Regions from separate parts of the Homo sapiens genome. Here region 2 is linked to region 1. Evidence: fine-mapped expression QTL. Tissue or cell type: whole blood. Region 1 holds a variant in brackets; the other region holds the start of a gene. All regions are shown on one strand. Distances are between the middles of the regions.

The links. PIP is the estimated chance that this variant, and not a neighbour inherited with it, causes the effect.
Region 2: it holds the start of HSD17B12, and the variant in region 1 is fine-mapped to the expression of HSD17B12 in whole blood (INTERVAL, PIP above 0.99).

The regions. Positions count from the first base shown.
Region 1 is chr11:43,790,361-43,798,468 of GRCh38, reverse strand. It overlaps HSD17B12 (hydroxysteroid 17-beta dehydrogenase 12), which reads right to left. Exons shown (of 11, transcript NM_016142.3): 4 at 42-149. Among named protein-coding and RNA genes, the nearest start is that of ALKBH3, 86 kb to the left of the region's middle. The variant T/C (reference allele first, on the strand shown) is at 4,419.
Region 2 is chr11:43,677,278-43,685,385 of GRCh38, reverse strand. It overlaps HSD17B12 (hydroxysteroid 17-beta dehydrogenase 12), which reads right to left and starts at 4,648. Exons shown (of 11, transcript NM_016142.3): 1 at 4,399-4,648. The coding sequence starts at 4,558. RefSeq lists enhancers at 3,894-3,953, 4,104-4,153, 4,228-4,793, 5,004-5,053.

The DNA of each region.
Region 1 (8,108 bases):
TAAATACAAGAAGAACCTATAAATGTGGCAAAAATACAAACCTAAGATGCCGATTTCAAGACCAGCCAAGCCTGTTTTAATTTTATCATAAATATCTTCTGATGCAAAGTCAACAGCAATGGTTCTTGTCTCCACTTTGAATTTTTCTTCTAGGGAAAAAGAAAACACAAACGGGGAGAGACAGGGAAAATTAGTACATGGCAGTGAAGATTAAGGCATTTGATAGCATTATCCTTTCAGACGTTTCTCCCCACCCAATTTGATACAAAATTTACACCAGGATAATTTTAAGCAATCATGAGACCATCTAAGAGATGATATAGAGTCAACACATTAGTTCTGCAATAAAAATTCTAATGTCGTCACAGAGAGCTGGCTGAATGTTCCTTAATCAGTTCTTCTTTTGTAAATCAATAATGAAAACTACTTTTAGACCCTTAGGTACAAATAATAAAACATGATTCATATCATAAAGTTATATACTCTTTAAATATCACTGGCTTTGTGATTTTAATTGTAAATTGGTGCTTTGTAACTTCAGGAAGAAGTCTTCATGTTGTAAAATATTTTAAAGTGTGACACATTAAAACAAAAAGTCTATCTTATCACAATGGAAATAAAATGAATGGGATCTTATAATTTGGGAGCTTGGTTAATAGTTAATAATCACTACATTTTAAAATCCACACAAAATGCACAGTAATAAAGGAATAAAGTAACATGAGAAACAACTCAGTATTCTACTTTACACAAGTCTATTAAGGTCCAAACAGTGCTGATGAAAATAATAGCTTCAGAAATGAGACCCTGGAGGAACAAAACTCATCTGAGTTAATGTACAGTATTTACTTTTGCCTTCAATAGACAGCCCCTGTGAAGAGATAGCACAGGCTCTGAGGTCACACAGACATGAGCATCAATTTCATTTCCACATATATTTGCAAAATGACTTTAAGCAAGTCACACATCCTCTTTGAGCCTCACCATCCTTTGGTGAAAATGAAGATAATTTTACCCAAATGATGATGTGAGGCTCACATGATACCTATGGTACGCAGACGGCAGTCCATAAAGGCTAGATTCTCTTTCTCTCCTCAACCATCTCCACTCAGCTTACTTAGTCAAGTCCAGTGAGCTAGGAATGCTTATTCTTTAGAACTTGCTGAGAATTCAAAAGAACTAATTTTAAAATCCTGCTTCCAAAAATAAATCTTTCTTTAGTCAAAGTCAATGTCAGCTCATCACAGAGCATGCAGGATTAATCCTCGTAGGAGGTATGTATTCTTGACCTAAAAGGATTTCTGTCTAAAACTAAAGAGTTGGTTCATGAGAGATCTGATTCTTAGTTAGACTTAATGAAAAGTACTGACCCTAGGTAGAAATCCATGAATAAACTGAAAAGAAGAATTGACCTAGAAAATACCTTATTTGGTGTTAAAGGTATACTTACTGTGCTAATATAAATGAGTTATAGGTGTGCTCATGTAATGGGAAGTTAGAGACAGAGCTGTAATTTCACAATAGCTGGTCCAACATGTCTACTTTAACATTTCACAGAATTTATCACCAGTAAATAAAGAATGCTGACTTTATTATAGCCACAGATCCACAAGGGAAAAAAAAAGCCCCAAAACAAAAGCTTAAAAATACCTTTGATTAAATGAAAAACTTCATTCAAGAATAACATAAGGTAAATTTATCTATTTATTTTGAAAAGCAAATTATTTTTCCATACTAGTATTAGGTATTGACATTCAGGAAATTTTCTACCAATAAAAGCCAACTCACAACTCCTGAACCAAATTCACTCTTCTGCATCTCACAGGATTTGCTGAATGTACATACTTACATTGTAGAGTTTTGTATAGATATGTTGCTAAAAAGATTCAATGACACTTTCACGAAGAATGTTATTTAGTAATGAACCAAAGCAAGCTCTTTGTATTCACATTAGCATAAGCAAATGGCTTCTGGTACAAGTTTTTCAGGTTAATTAAAATTTCTGAACTCATACCTAGATTTCCCAGAATCATGTACTAATACAGTGACCACTGCCTTTTTTAAAAAACAACTTTTCTTCACTGCCTCTATTGTGAGCCTTTCCATTTTTTTTTTTCTTTTAAGAGATGGGGTCTCAAGCCTGGGCTTAAGCCTCCTTAGTAGCTGGGACTATAGGCACACACCATCGTTCCCGGCTTTTCCTATTTAACGTAGGTCAGACCATGATACCCACCTCTTCACAAACCTCCAGAGATTTCCCTCTCACTCAGAGTAAGAGCCAAAAGGCTGTGGCAACAGCCTAATAAACGGTGTGAGTTTATTGGCTGAACTCACCTCCAACTACTCTCCCCGTTGCTCCTCAGTTCTAGCCATAGGGGATCCTAGCAGTTGTTTAGATACAGAATGTTGTCCACGTACACTCGGGACTTAAACTTACCATTCCCTATGTTTGGAATGCTCTTCCACATCCCTTGTCTCTGGTGGGTCCTTGAGCAAATGTTACCTTCTCAGAGAAGCCTGCCTTGCCCACCCTTTAATAAATGCAACCATCCCCCCCAGCACTCCTCATGCCCTTCCCTGCTTTATTTTATCCCATTGTACTTACCACCTTCTAATACACTAGGTAGTGTATTTTAATAATGTACATGCTTGTCTATATGTCTTGACTCAAATTAAGCTTCAAGAAGACAAGGACTTGGTTCTGTTTTGTTCAGTTGCTCAACAATGGCACAAATGATCTGGGATTTTCCCACCCTCCTCTCTTTTCCCTTAGGCTGGCTCCTTTCCTGGAGGGCCATTGCCATTCCATGCATCGCATGCAGACAACAATGTTCGGAGGCAGAGATTGTATGTCTCTGTGATATGTCCCTTTTATAGAGAGAAAATTTCCCCAGAAGAATCCAGCAGACTCCCACCACGTTTCCTTTCCAAGGAATATGGTACATGCATGCTATTGACCAGGGACATGGTTGGGTGGACTTTCAGAATTCCATCAACTGCCTCCACCTCCACCATCGAGTTCTGTGAATCAAAAATAGATGTGCATATATAAGAATAGGACAGGAACTGTCTCTTTCTGGGCCAAGGCAATTGAATAAGAATTATAATGGAGGGGTCTAGAAGGCTAAGGTGGGAGCTAGCTAGCCTATGTTAAAAAAGAAAAGTTGAGAACGATGGTGTGTGCCTGTAGTCTCAGCTACTCAGGAGGCTTGAACTTGGGGCTTGGAGACCAGCCTAGAAGTAAATCTAGGCATCTTCCCCCTTCCCATAGCCTATTACCCTGCATGTGACCCTGCCAACAGAAGACAAGACAAATGGACAAGAATCCTCTAACTTTAAACATCAGTATGAGGGTGAATTAAGCACCTGGAACAGAAGTAGATACCAGATATACATAACACAGCCCTCATTTCCATCTTCACACCTCCCCAACCTGTTTTTTTTCATAAAACCACCAGTCTACAACTCAGCAACAGCCTACTGCTAGGGAAGAATAAGCACTTTACCAAAGTTTTTGGAGTAGTACTTCTTCTGGGACTCTGATCCTTGCCTCATTACAAAGGTCTAAGAAATGACACAGCCTCTCTCTTTTTTCCAGAGTAGGAGTTGAAATAAGTTAAAATCAATATCCCACAAGTGTGTAGGATAAAGATGCACAAACAATTGGATTTGGAGGTTGCAATGAATATGATATGAGCCACACAATTACCCCTTCAGTGAAACTCATGTTGCCCTAATTGTGGGAGTATCACCAGCAGACAGCTTTTGGGTGTCAGCCTCAGCTGCAGAGTTGCCTTGTCCAAGATCACGCTCTTTCCGTAGCATCCTCATCCAATGGCTGATCCCGGTGAATGTTTAAAGTGATTGGACAGCTTGTACCTACAAGATTCTGATTCCAGAAGTATAGTCTGTTTATTATCTTATTTTTCTGTTCTTTCACAATGCCCTAGTTTTAGTTATGCTACATCTAAAATGGGTTTCAACATTTCTAGTAGTGCAAGTCTACTTTGTTCTTCTTTTTTAAAAACTTATTGCTTATCCTCACCTGTTTAGTCTCAGTTTTGATTGGGATTACATTAAACATTTCAATTAAAGAATGACAATGTGGCATTCCCTCCGGGCTCTCCATTTATTCAAATGTTTTGTTTAAATATCTCACAGTAAAATCTTGTGGTTGTAAATTCTTAAAGACTTAAAGAATTCCATGATATATACAGATACTCAATACTATTGATGCCTATTGACAAATCAGTCGGTATCTGAAATTGTATGAGCTAGCATCCCACTACTTACAGTTGTGGTTACATATAGTCATGACCCATCCCAACTTTATTTTCAGATGAAAATAATTATCAGATGGTCTTGGCCAACTGCCTCTCAGCCTAGTGGCTAAGACCAAACACCAAGAAGAAAAAAAC[T/C]GGTATGAACTGCTCGAGGCAGTCAACTAACTAGAAATGGAGGCAGAAATGCAACTCTGGCATAAAAAGTGGAGAATGAAGCTAAGCTACACTGATACTATTCACTCCCTTTCTATCTACTGCTCCATTGAAAACCAGATAACTACAATTGTGGAAAAGCAGAAAGCAAATATTATTTATAACGATAGTGCTATAGAATAATGAATATCCTCACTGGCCTCAAGCCATTCCATCACCTGCAAGAGCACATGCACCACTCCTACAGTCACACTGCTGTTTACGACACAGAGTATTCAGAATTCATTCAAGGTCAAGTCTGGAATTGACAGAAAAGGAACTGAACCCTCAAATAGTCTCAAGATGCTGCTGAAACACCTCTCAATATTAAAACTCACACATTTTTAGGTACAAGCCAAGAAAGGTGATAAATATATTCAGAATGGCTTTATGTTTACCATACTTCCAGCTCTGGCCATCATCATTTTCATTTTGCTCAACAAATTGGCATTTCCTTTTAAATTTCTCTTTCTATAAAAATAATTTTATAGATTTTAGAAGGACTTTCCTCAAGTTTTTCCCCTAGGTGGCTGGGGATATTAAGTCTGAGAATGTTACAAAAGAAGTCTAATTTACATAAACTTGTGTGTTATTTGTGTTTTTTCTATTAATAAAACCAAAATATATATGTTGACTCTCCTTTGTCCCCACATCTGCTCCAAATAAACAGCCTGCCTTCCCCTGTAAGTTTTAGGTACTATCCATTATGAAATTTCTGTCATATCACCCTTCCTCACTTTTTCCATATTATAACATTATTATAACATTCTTTAAGATTCAAGTCATGTTACTGCATCCGTGGACATATTTTTCACTATTCCTATTTCCTCCAAGGTAAAGCTACTTCCACTCTCTGCTGTGCTCCTAGAAACCTTCTATATAACCCTACGAGGCACTTAATATATTAAGCAAAGAGTCTGTTTCTTAAACAGGGAGCATTATTTGTCATATTTGTATTCCCTGCAGCTAGCACCATGTCTGGCATAAAGCAGAGGTCATTCTGCTCAATGTTTGTTAAATGAGTAAATAAAGCTAGGCCAACACAGCTGATTTATTAAAATCATCTTCTCAATACTTCTTGAATTCCTCCCTATAGAAATTACATTTCTTACATGCTGGTAAGAAATGTATGTATAAGACAGAACATTAGGCATATTAAAATATAAGCTAGAGTGGGGTGTGGTGGTGCACGCCTGTAGTACCACCTACTCTGGAGGCTGAAGCAAGAGGATCACTTGAGCCCTGCAGTTTGAGACCAGCCAGGACAACATAGCAAGACTCCAGCTCTCAAAAAAAAAAAAAAAAAAAAAAGGTTACATTGAGAGACAATTCAGTTCCTCCATCTGTCATACACGGGTCTGGACTATCATTCTCATATAAATTCAAACATTTTAGAGTTATAAGAAACCTTAGAAACCATCCCATCTCATGAATAAAGTACTCTAAGCTTGGCTCAGGGGCACATATATGAAGGTTGAGGATATTTTAGTCATGTACCAATCTCCCTTATTCCAGTCTTGGAAAAGATAATGAGTTGGGGAGAGGAGACTCTTAGAGAAACAGCACTATATTCAATGCGTACCAATTTTAGCATCTTAAAAATAAATTCATAAAATTCAGTTTGTAACCATAAAAATGTCTCGCACGTTTTTTAAAAAACCTCTCCATTTTCACTAAAATTATGTTTTACAGTATTTAGAGATTTAAAAGATGCAAGACAAGTCTTTTGTACTTTCTCTAATTTTAAGGGGAAAAGAAAAACAAAGTACCCTAACCAATTTCTCTCCACTTCCCTTCTTTTCCTGTCTTCTTTCCCCCACAACTCCTAGGCCTTACCGTATCCTTACATCCCTACTATCCCTTGGGGTGAGACATCCCCCAACAAAGAAAGCCTGCCTTACATGACTTTGGAAAAGGTGATTGTGTACCAGAAGGGAATAATTGATCTGACTCCATTTATAAAGGCCCATTTAATTACAATGAGCAGAGATGCCACACAAATAATGGTCTATTTCCTTTTTTATGTTGCCCTTGGAAAAATATTCATGACAATTTTAATCTCATATGAAGAGACCCATTTTCCAAAAAATTAATCATAGCTCATCAGGATTCTATCTCAAACCAAGCATTTCTTTATTTTAAGCCAAGGTTATTATATTTTTTTCATTATAGCCTCTTTAACTAGAACAACCACTTGCAATAAATAAAAACCTTATGCTGCGTGAATCTGTTCTATTGATAGGACGTGAATAGGCTCCATCCTTTTGAAAGCTCTGGGTTCTACAGTTGGTCCAGGAATTGTAGACTCTTGTACAAACCACTCTTGAAGAAATTTTCATATAACAACGTTGATTTTTCTGCACTTGGTAAACAAAAGGTCAACAGAAGTACCTGAATTTTGTTTTTTGAGGGGAGAAAAAGGCAAAATATTCCTCTTCTTCTTCTTCTTCTTTTTTTTTTTTGAGACAGAGTCTCACTCTGTCACCCAGACTGGAGTGCAGTAGTGTGATCTCAGCTCACTGCAACCTCTGCCTGCCAGGTTCAAGAGATTCTCTTGCCTCAGCCTCCCAAGTAGCTGGGATTACAGGCACCCACCACCACACCCAGCTAAGTTTTGTATTTTTAGTAGAGACAGGGTTTTGCCACGTTGGCCAGGCTGGTCTCGAACTCCTGACCTCAGGTGATCCGCCTGCCTTGACCTCCCAAAGTGCTAGGATTACAGGCATGAGCCACTGCTCCCGGCCCAAAACATCATTCTTAAGATTACTACACTTAAGATTCCAAGATGCTACTGCTAGCAGTATGAAAGCAGGGTTCACTGGAAGAGCCTGGGATGCAGTTAGAAGACCTGCACTTGAGTGCCAACTCAACTGGTTGCTGGCCTAAGGCCCTTCACTCAAGCCTTTGAACTTTCAAGAATACCATTTCTTAGCCTAGAAAACCACAAAAAATAATACCCACCCTACACAGTTTTTTTTTATTTTGTTTTTTGTTTTTTTGAGATGGAGTTCCGCTTTTGTTGCCCAGGCTGGAATGCAATGGTGCAATCTTGGCTCACTGCAACCTCCACCTCCTGGGTTCAAGCGATTCTCCTGCCTCAGCCTTCCGAGTAGCTGGGATTACAGGCACCCACTACCATGCCCTGTTAATTTTTGTATTTTTTTATTAGAGATGGGGTTTCACCATGTTGGCCAGGCTGGTCTCAAACTCCTGACCTCAGGTGATCCGCCTGCCTCAGCCTCCCAAAGTGCTGGGATTACAGGCGTAAGCCACTGTGCCTGGCCCATAATAATTCATAAGTTTTAAATTGCACGCCATTCTAATTAGCATGATGAAATCTTGCACTGTCCTGCTCTCAGTGTGAATCATACCTTTGTCCAGCATATCCATGCTGTACACACCACCCACTCTTTAGTCACTTAGTATCTCTCTTGGTTATCAGATCAGAAAAAGAGCACATATAGGTATATAGGGTTCAGCACTATCCACAGTTTCAAGTATTCACTGGGGATCTTGTGGCATATCCCCTGCAGACACGGGGGGGACTCCTCTATCTGCCAATATCTACAAAGATGGCTGCTTGGCAAATAGTTGTTTTTTCCTTAATAGCATAGGCTGCTGTAGGTATAATCT
Region 2 (8,108 bases), 110 kb after region 1:
ACACAAGTATTCTTCAGTCATTTGAGGTTAACCCTGTGCAGTTAACCAATGTGAAAACAGAAATTGTGATTATACCTGTGATTTTGAGAATCCTTTGATGCATGTTTTCATGAATGGTTTTTCCAGAGGAGAACCACACCATTCCATGCCATTTTTAAGTCCTCACTATCTACTGAATTAGGAGAACCTTGGAATACTGCAAAGCCAAACGAGTTCCATCAGCAACCAGAAGCTACATCTTAGAGATTTGCTAATGTAAACATCCAGAGGGTAGAACAAAGGGTTGAAGACTTTTTTTGTGAAATCTGACCTCACTCCACAAAACAGAATATTATTCAGCAATACAAACAAAATGAAGTACAGATTTCATAGATGAAACTTGAAAACATTATGCAAAAATCAAAGAGCCACTAACAAAAAAGAACACCTATTGTATGATTCCATTTATATGAAATATCCAGAACAGGCAAACCTACGTAGACAGAAAGTAGATTGGTAGTTGACTAGGGCTGGAGCGGGTGGGGGTCAGGGAGTGAAGGGCCTAATGGGTACAGCATTTCTTTTAAGGAAGATGAAAATGTTCTGAAATTAGATTTGATGATGGTTGCACAACCCTGTGAACATAAGTAAAAACCTTGAATTGTACACTTTAAATGGGCAAATTGTATGGTATATTAATTATATCCCACTAAAGTTGTTTTAAAAAATCTAACTCACTAACTGATTAGTGGATCATTTATTCTTCACTGCGTGTAACAATATCCTCTTCATTAAAAACTAAAAATAAGTGCTCAGAGTGCTGTCTTATGTTTAAAGTTATAAAATATCTTGACATTGGAAGTCTACTTACCTTGCCTTTGCATCTATCATCTCCACTTTATTTCAATAGCAATCATTTTAGATGAACTCCAGCAATGGAAACTACTCAAATACTTGCAAAATGTATTTATGGTCAAACCACATTCTACAGATCACATTTTTTATTGCTCTATAGCAGTGACTGTTCTTTCCTTTATTTAATACAAACTGACCACCTTTGTTATCAATCTTTTTTTGATTACTTGCTACACTGACCTTCAAACACCTGAAACTCCACATTCACAGGATCTCCTTTTGTTCTCCTAAGAAATACAGGAAGTATTCGGGTAACAATGACAAAGAAGTCTTACTTACTAAATTGGCTAAACCCACCTTCTAGGGGTATAGGGAACACAGGGGATTCACCTGAGTGGGAATGTTACTGGTGAGAACTAGGAGAAAGAGATGGCCCAGCTCTTGACCAGGAGATGGAGATAAATTAGAGTGTGGGCCAGCCAAGTAATGGACAGTCTTGAAAGCCTAACAACACTAAGGAAACTGTTATCTAGAATATTTTACTGATTGTGAAGCATACCTGTATTTCAAGTTTTTCAAAGTTTTTGTTCTTAAATTTAGAAGAGCCAATTTGTGAGAAAAGACAAAAAGTGAGAATCCACGCTTTCTGCCCCTCAGATCCTAAAATCTGAGGCAGACAGATTAAACATACTCACATGAAGATACTCACATGAAGAGACTAAGAATAACAAGAATAAAAATATAGTATCAATTCAACATATACTAATAAAATACTTAAAATATATAATTGGTTTTAAAGAGGAAAATATTAAATATTAGTACTAGAAAGTAGATTCAAAGGCTGCATAAGAACAGAGACTCTTGAGATTAAGATAGTAATTTCGTAGGGAAAAAACTTACTAGTACTATTTACATACAACAATTCTAAAATCATAACTTTGGTGGAACAATATTTTTAATCACAACTCTAATTATTCAAGTGTCATCTCTGCTAGTTTGTTTTTCAAATTATTTCAGTTCACCCCTCCAACTCATGTGAAGAACCTGTTTAAGATGAGCTGCTCTTAATTTTGTTTTTGAAGAGTCCCAGAATTTGAAGATAAAGGGAGTATTTTCTTTTAAGATCACTTCTTCTGCTTAAGCATTTAAAAAAAAAAAATCCAAAACCCAGGGTAAATTGAACCTGTCAGCATTTCACTTCAATTATGATACTATGATCCTCTGCTGTTCCAGTGTTCCAGTTCAAATTTCATATCTAAATCTTACACAAATACTTCCCTTAATTTATCAATTATCCTTCCTCTGGGGCCAAATCTTTTCAACACAAATGTTACTTATGGTGTTACATCACTTGCCTTTTACTGTACACTCATATGTAGATGACTTGGACTTATCATTTGAATAATCAACCAATATGGTCAATTTTAAAGAGAAAAAAAAAAAAAAACAAAAAAAAACACATCCAGGCATGGTGGCTCACACATGTAATCCCAGCACTTTGGGAGGCTGAAGCAGGAGGATTGCTTGATCTCAGGTCTTCCAGACCAGCCTCTGAAACAGAGTGAGGCCTTGTCTCTACAAAAAACAAAAAAAATGAGCTGGTGTGGTGATGCACACCTGTAGTCCCAGCTACTCAGGAGGCTCACATGGGAGGATCACTTGAACCCAAGAGTTCGAGGCTGCAGTTGGCTATGATCACACCACCACACCACTGCCCTCCAGCCTGGGTGACAAAGTGAGACCCTGTCTCAAAAAAAAAAAGAAAAGAAAAGAAAACAACAAGTTATTAACATTAGTCTTTGCTTACCAATTACAAATTTTATCTTGATACAATTCCCTAATTTTTATCTTGTATAAAAATCTTGTAGTCTTTTGTAGTCAAAAGTCTTCAAACAGGTTTTCCAAAACTAACAATGAAGAATGTGGGCAAGTCAATTGGGAAATCATAATCTTAATTATAACCAAGTTGAATACTTCACTTTCTGTTTTTTTTTTTTTTTTTTTTTTGAGATGAGTCTCGCTCTGTCACCCAGGCTGGATGGAGTGCAGTGGCATGATCTCGGCTCACTGCAAACTCCGCCTCCTGGGTTCAAGCGATTCTCTTGCCTCAGCCTCTGGGACTACAGGGGCGCGCCACCACGCCCAGCTAATTTTTGTATTTTTAGTACAGACGGGGTTTCACCGTGTTGGTCAGGCTGGTCTCAAACTCCTGACCTTGTGATCCACTCGCCTCGGCCTCCCAAAATGCTGGGATTACAGGCGTGAGCCATCACACCCAGCTGAACATTTCACTTCCTTTTTCAGAGAAACAGGTGACTGTGAAACAGAATTATAATGTTGCTCCACATCGTCCAAAGATTTCACATACATATCCACTGCTAAGATGTTTTCTCTTAATGTTAACATAAACCCAAAAGGTTAACATATGTCTTTCCTACTAGGTTGTTTAAATGTTTCTAAATAAACAAAGAACATGGAGTAACATTATTAGTGTATCTTACCTGAGCCCAGTCTGCAGGCAATGCCTAACCACCCCAAAATTCAATAAAATGCTTAGGAAGTGCACATTCGATTATAAAACATCAAAATAAATAATCATCTCAGGGTAGGACCACAAGCATATCATAAGTAATCACTCGGTTTAAAGGGAAAAAAGGCCAAGAGACGAAAAATAAAGCAAAGAAGGAAACAAAATAGGTTGAAAAAGAAAAAAAAAAGGGGGGGGGGAGCAAAACTTCCCTGCAGATAATTTTCCCTATTTCCTCAACCTGACCTTCGTCCTCCATTTTAAAAATCCTCCGACTACAAGTTCCATGTGTTTGGTTCACTCTTTACGGGTATACTTTTTCCTACAAACGTCCTTGTGAAAAAAAAAAAAAAATCTGATTTTAACATGATGAGTTATCATTTTACAGAAGCAATAGTTCTTGCTACTCGTTAGGACTCCAGAACAGTTTAGCGAGAATTCCTTTTAAAGGGGCTTTGTAATTGTATGAAATAGGCCAAATCCAGATACGATTACTATCTTAATCGTAACTGGGGAGGTACGATTCCGCAGTGCAAAAAGCCTTCTGAAATTGTGTCCCTACACCCCTTTCCATCCTCTGCCCAAACATGTTAACAGAATGCTCTGCATCCTTAGCACAGGGCCAATATTCAAACCGAGCGAAAAACTTTATTTTAAAAACACTTACAAGGGGCGAACCAAGGAGGACAGCGTGTGACTGAGGAGGCAGCAGGGCGACTGACTGGCTCCATGAACACGGAATGGCTTAAAGGGCACAAGCCCCAGAGACTTAAGGCAGTTTTCTCCTACACCCTAAGCTGAGCTTAGATTCCCAGGATTGAGCGAGCAGTGTATTTCGTACCTTAAAACTCTGCAAGTAGTCTAAGCAAGCAGAAGACAGCCAAGGGAGCCAGGAGGGGCCCGCGGGGCACAGGAGCCTGAGAAAGAGGAGAGCTGGGGAGGGGAAGGCCAGGAGCAGACCCCAGAACTAGTCATCACGGCCCAGGCCTGGTCCGGGCCGCCGCGGGAGCGAGGACGCGGCGCTGCATCCGACTCACCTGCCCATTCTCCGAGCCCCGGGCCGACCCCCGCCTCATTCCCCACTCCCCAGACCCGGAGGGCCGTGAAGAGCGAGTACGAAATACGCAGGGCTAGGTAGGCCACGGTGCCCGCGCCGACCCAGTACAGGAAGCCGGCGGCGGGGAGAGCGCTCTCCATGGCTTTCCACTAGGCCTCACTACCTTCGTGAATGAAAAGAGCGAGTGAATGAATCCAGGAGGAGGCGCCGGCCGTGACGGTGAGGATGACACTAATAGGCGCTGCTCCGACACCACTTTGGGCCTAAACCCCGCCCGCGGGGCCATATCCGTGTCGCTATTGGTGACCCGTCTTTCCCTCTGCGCGTAGTGCGTCAGCCATTAGCTGACTCCAGTTCCACTGCCCCTCCCACACTCCTCCCATCACCGCGTCCCCCGGGGTTCCGCCAGTGAGCGCCCTGTCTCACCCCACCGAGGCGCCCCGGTCTCTCATTGGCTGCAGCCGTACTCGCGACTGCGGAAGACTGCGCTCGGATTGGCCGGTCAGACCCAGGCTGGTTTGAGCTCAGGTTCGAAGAGGAAATGGGATCAGAGAAGCCGCTAGTGAATGGAAAGATTATAGTAAGAAGTGGGCGTAGGCAGGGCGCGGTGGCTAACACCTGTAATCCCAGCACTTTGGGAGGCCGAGGCGGGCGAATCGCTTGAGCTTAGGAGTCCGAGACCAGCCTGGCCAACATCCGAACCCCGTCTCTACTAAAAATACAAAAATTAGCCGGGCGTGGTGGCGTGCGCCTGTAATCTCAGCTACTCGGGAGGCTGAGGCAGGAGAATCACGAACCCGGGAGGCAGAGGTTGCAGTGAGCCGAGATCGCGCCACTGCATTCCAGCCTGAGCGACGGAGTGAGACTCCATCCCAAAACAAAAACAAAAAAAAAAAGAAAAGAAATAGGTGTGGAGCCACAGTTTTATTTTCAACTCTTTATTAAATAAATATATATTTTACATATATGATATAATTATATAATAAATATATCATTGTTAAGCGTGCTGTCATTGTTGCCATAAACTTTTCCAGATAAAGGCTTGCAGTCTTCTGTGTCTGTGCCTTCCTCGCTGCAGGCATTCGCCCGGGTTACACTCACTCATAGAGAGCCCTTAAATGCCAGACCTCCCTCCCAGCTGAGCACTAAACATCACTTAGTTCCCAACGATTTGGGGTTCAAGGCAAATAACCTGATGGAGTCTAATAACTGTTAGACGATGGCATCAGAGCTGTATGGTGAATGAAAAATATAGGAACACAGCTTGCTGAACAATTAGTTTTGGAAGGAGACTATATCTTTTAATTTGTCTTCAAAGGGGGATAGAAAATTTTACTTTCTTTTTTAAATTTCCCTTTTTTGGTTGGGGAGTGGGGGAGTGGTATTTCCAGGGGGCACAGAAGTGTGAAGTCCAGATAGAGGCATGGGAACTACGTTAGCAAAGTTGCAGAGGAGAAAGATCACAAGGTAAGTTTAAAAAATTGTGTAAAACTTAAGGAGATTTTGGGCTGAGACGATGGGGTTTTCTAAATATACAATTATGTCATCTGCAAACAGGGACAATTTGACTGCCTCTTTTCCTAACTGAATACTCTTTATTTCTTTCTCCTGCCTGATTGCCCTGGCCAGAACTTCCAACACTATGTTGAATAGGAGTGGTGAGAGAGGGCATCCCTGTCTTGTAACTCAATGTGCAAAAATCACAGGCATTCTTATACACCAATAACAGACAAACAGAGAGCCAAATCATGACTGAACTCCCCTTCACAATTGCTTCAAAGAAAATAAAATACCTAGGAATCCAACTTACAAGGGATGTGAAGGACCTCTTCAAGGAGAACTACAAACCACTGCTCAACGAAATAAAAGAGGACACAAACAAATGGAAGAACGTTCCATGCTCATGGATAGGAAGAATCAATATCGTGAAAATGGCCATACTGCCCAAGGTAATGTATAGATTCAATGCCATCCCCATCAAGCTACCAATGACTTTCTTCACAGAATTGGAAACAACTACTTTAAAGTTCATATGGAACCAAAAAAGAGCCCGCATTGCCAAGTCAATCCTAAGCCAAAAGAACAAAGCTGGAGGCATCACACTACCTGACTTCAAACTATACTACAAGGCTACAGTAATCAAAACAGCATGGTACTGGCACCAAAACAGAGATATAAACCAATGGAACAGAACAGAGCCCTCAGAAATAACACCACACATCTACAACTATCTGATCTTTGATGAACCTGGCAAAAACAAGAAATGGGGAAAGGATTTCCTATTTAATAAATGGTGCTGGGAAAACTGGCTAGCCATATGTAGGAAGCTGAAACTGGATCCCTTCCTTACACCTTATACAAAAATTAATTCAAGATGGATTAAAGACTTACATGTTAGACCTAAAACTATAAAAAACCCTAGAAGAAAACCTAGGCAATACCATTCAGGACATAGGCATGGGCAAGGACTTCATGTCTAAAGCACCAAAAGCAATGGCAACAAAAGCCAAAATTGACAAATGGGATCTAATTAAACTAAAGAGCTTCTGCACAGCAAAAGAAACTACCATCAGAGTGAACAGGCAACCTACAGAATGGGAGAAAATTTTTGCAATCTACTCATCTTACAAAGGGCTAATATCCAGAATCTACAAAGAACTCAAACAAATTTACAAGAAAAAAACAAACAACCCCATCAACAAGTGGGCAAAAGATATGAACAGATACTTCTCAAAAGAAGACATTTATGCAGGCAACAGACACATGAAAAAATGCTCATCATCACTGGCCATCAGAGAAACGCAAATCAAAACCACAATGAGATACCATCTCATACCAGTTAGAATGGCAATCATTAAAAAGTCAGGCAACAACAGGTTCTGGAGAGGATGTGGAGAAATAAGAACACTTTTACACTGTTGGTGGGACTGTAAACTAGTTCAACCATTGTGAAAGACAGTGTGGTGATTCCTCAAGGATCTAGAACCAGAAATACCATTTGACCCAACCTTCCCATTACTGGGTATATACCCAAAGGATTATAAATCATGCTGCTATAAAGACACATGCACGCGTATGTTTATTGCAGCACTATTCACATTTGGAACCAACCCGAATGTCCAACAATGATAGACTGGATTAACAAAAAGTGGCACATATACACCATGGAATACTATACAGCCATATAAAAGGATGAGTTCATGTCCTTTGTAGGGACATGGATGAAGCTGGAAACCATCATTCTCAGCAAACTATCGCAAGGACAAAAACCCAACACCACATGTTCTCACTCATAGGTGGGAATTGAACAATGAGAACACTTGGACACAGGAAAGGGAACATCACACACTGGGGCCTGTCATGGGGTGGTGGGGGGGTGGGGAGGAATAGCATTAGGAGATAAACCTAATGTAAATGACGAGTTAGTGGGTGCAGCACACCAACATGGCACATGTATACATATGTAACAAACCTGCACATTGTGGACATGTACCCTAGAACTTAAAGTATAATTTAAAAAAATTGTGTAAAACAATAAAGTGCTTCACACTTACTCTCTACCTTCCTTCAAGAGTTTTTGTTTCCTTCTCTGGCATGGATTTGGGCTCAGAAAGGTACCTAAAATTTGTTCTTAGCCAGTAGGGGCTGCTGATTCAAGACTTGAGTGTTTTTTGTAAAGCAAGAACTTAA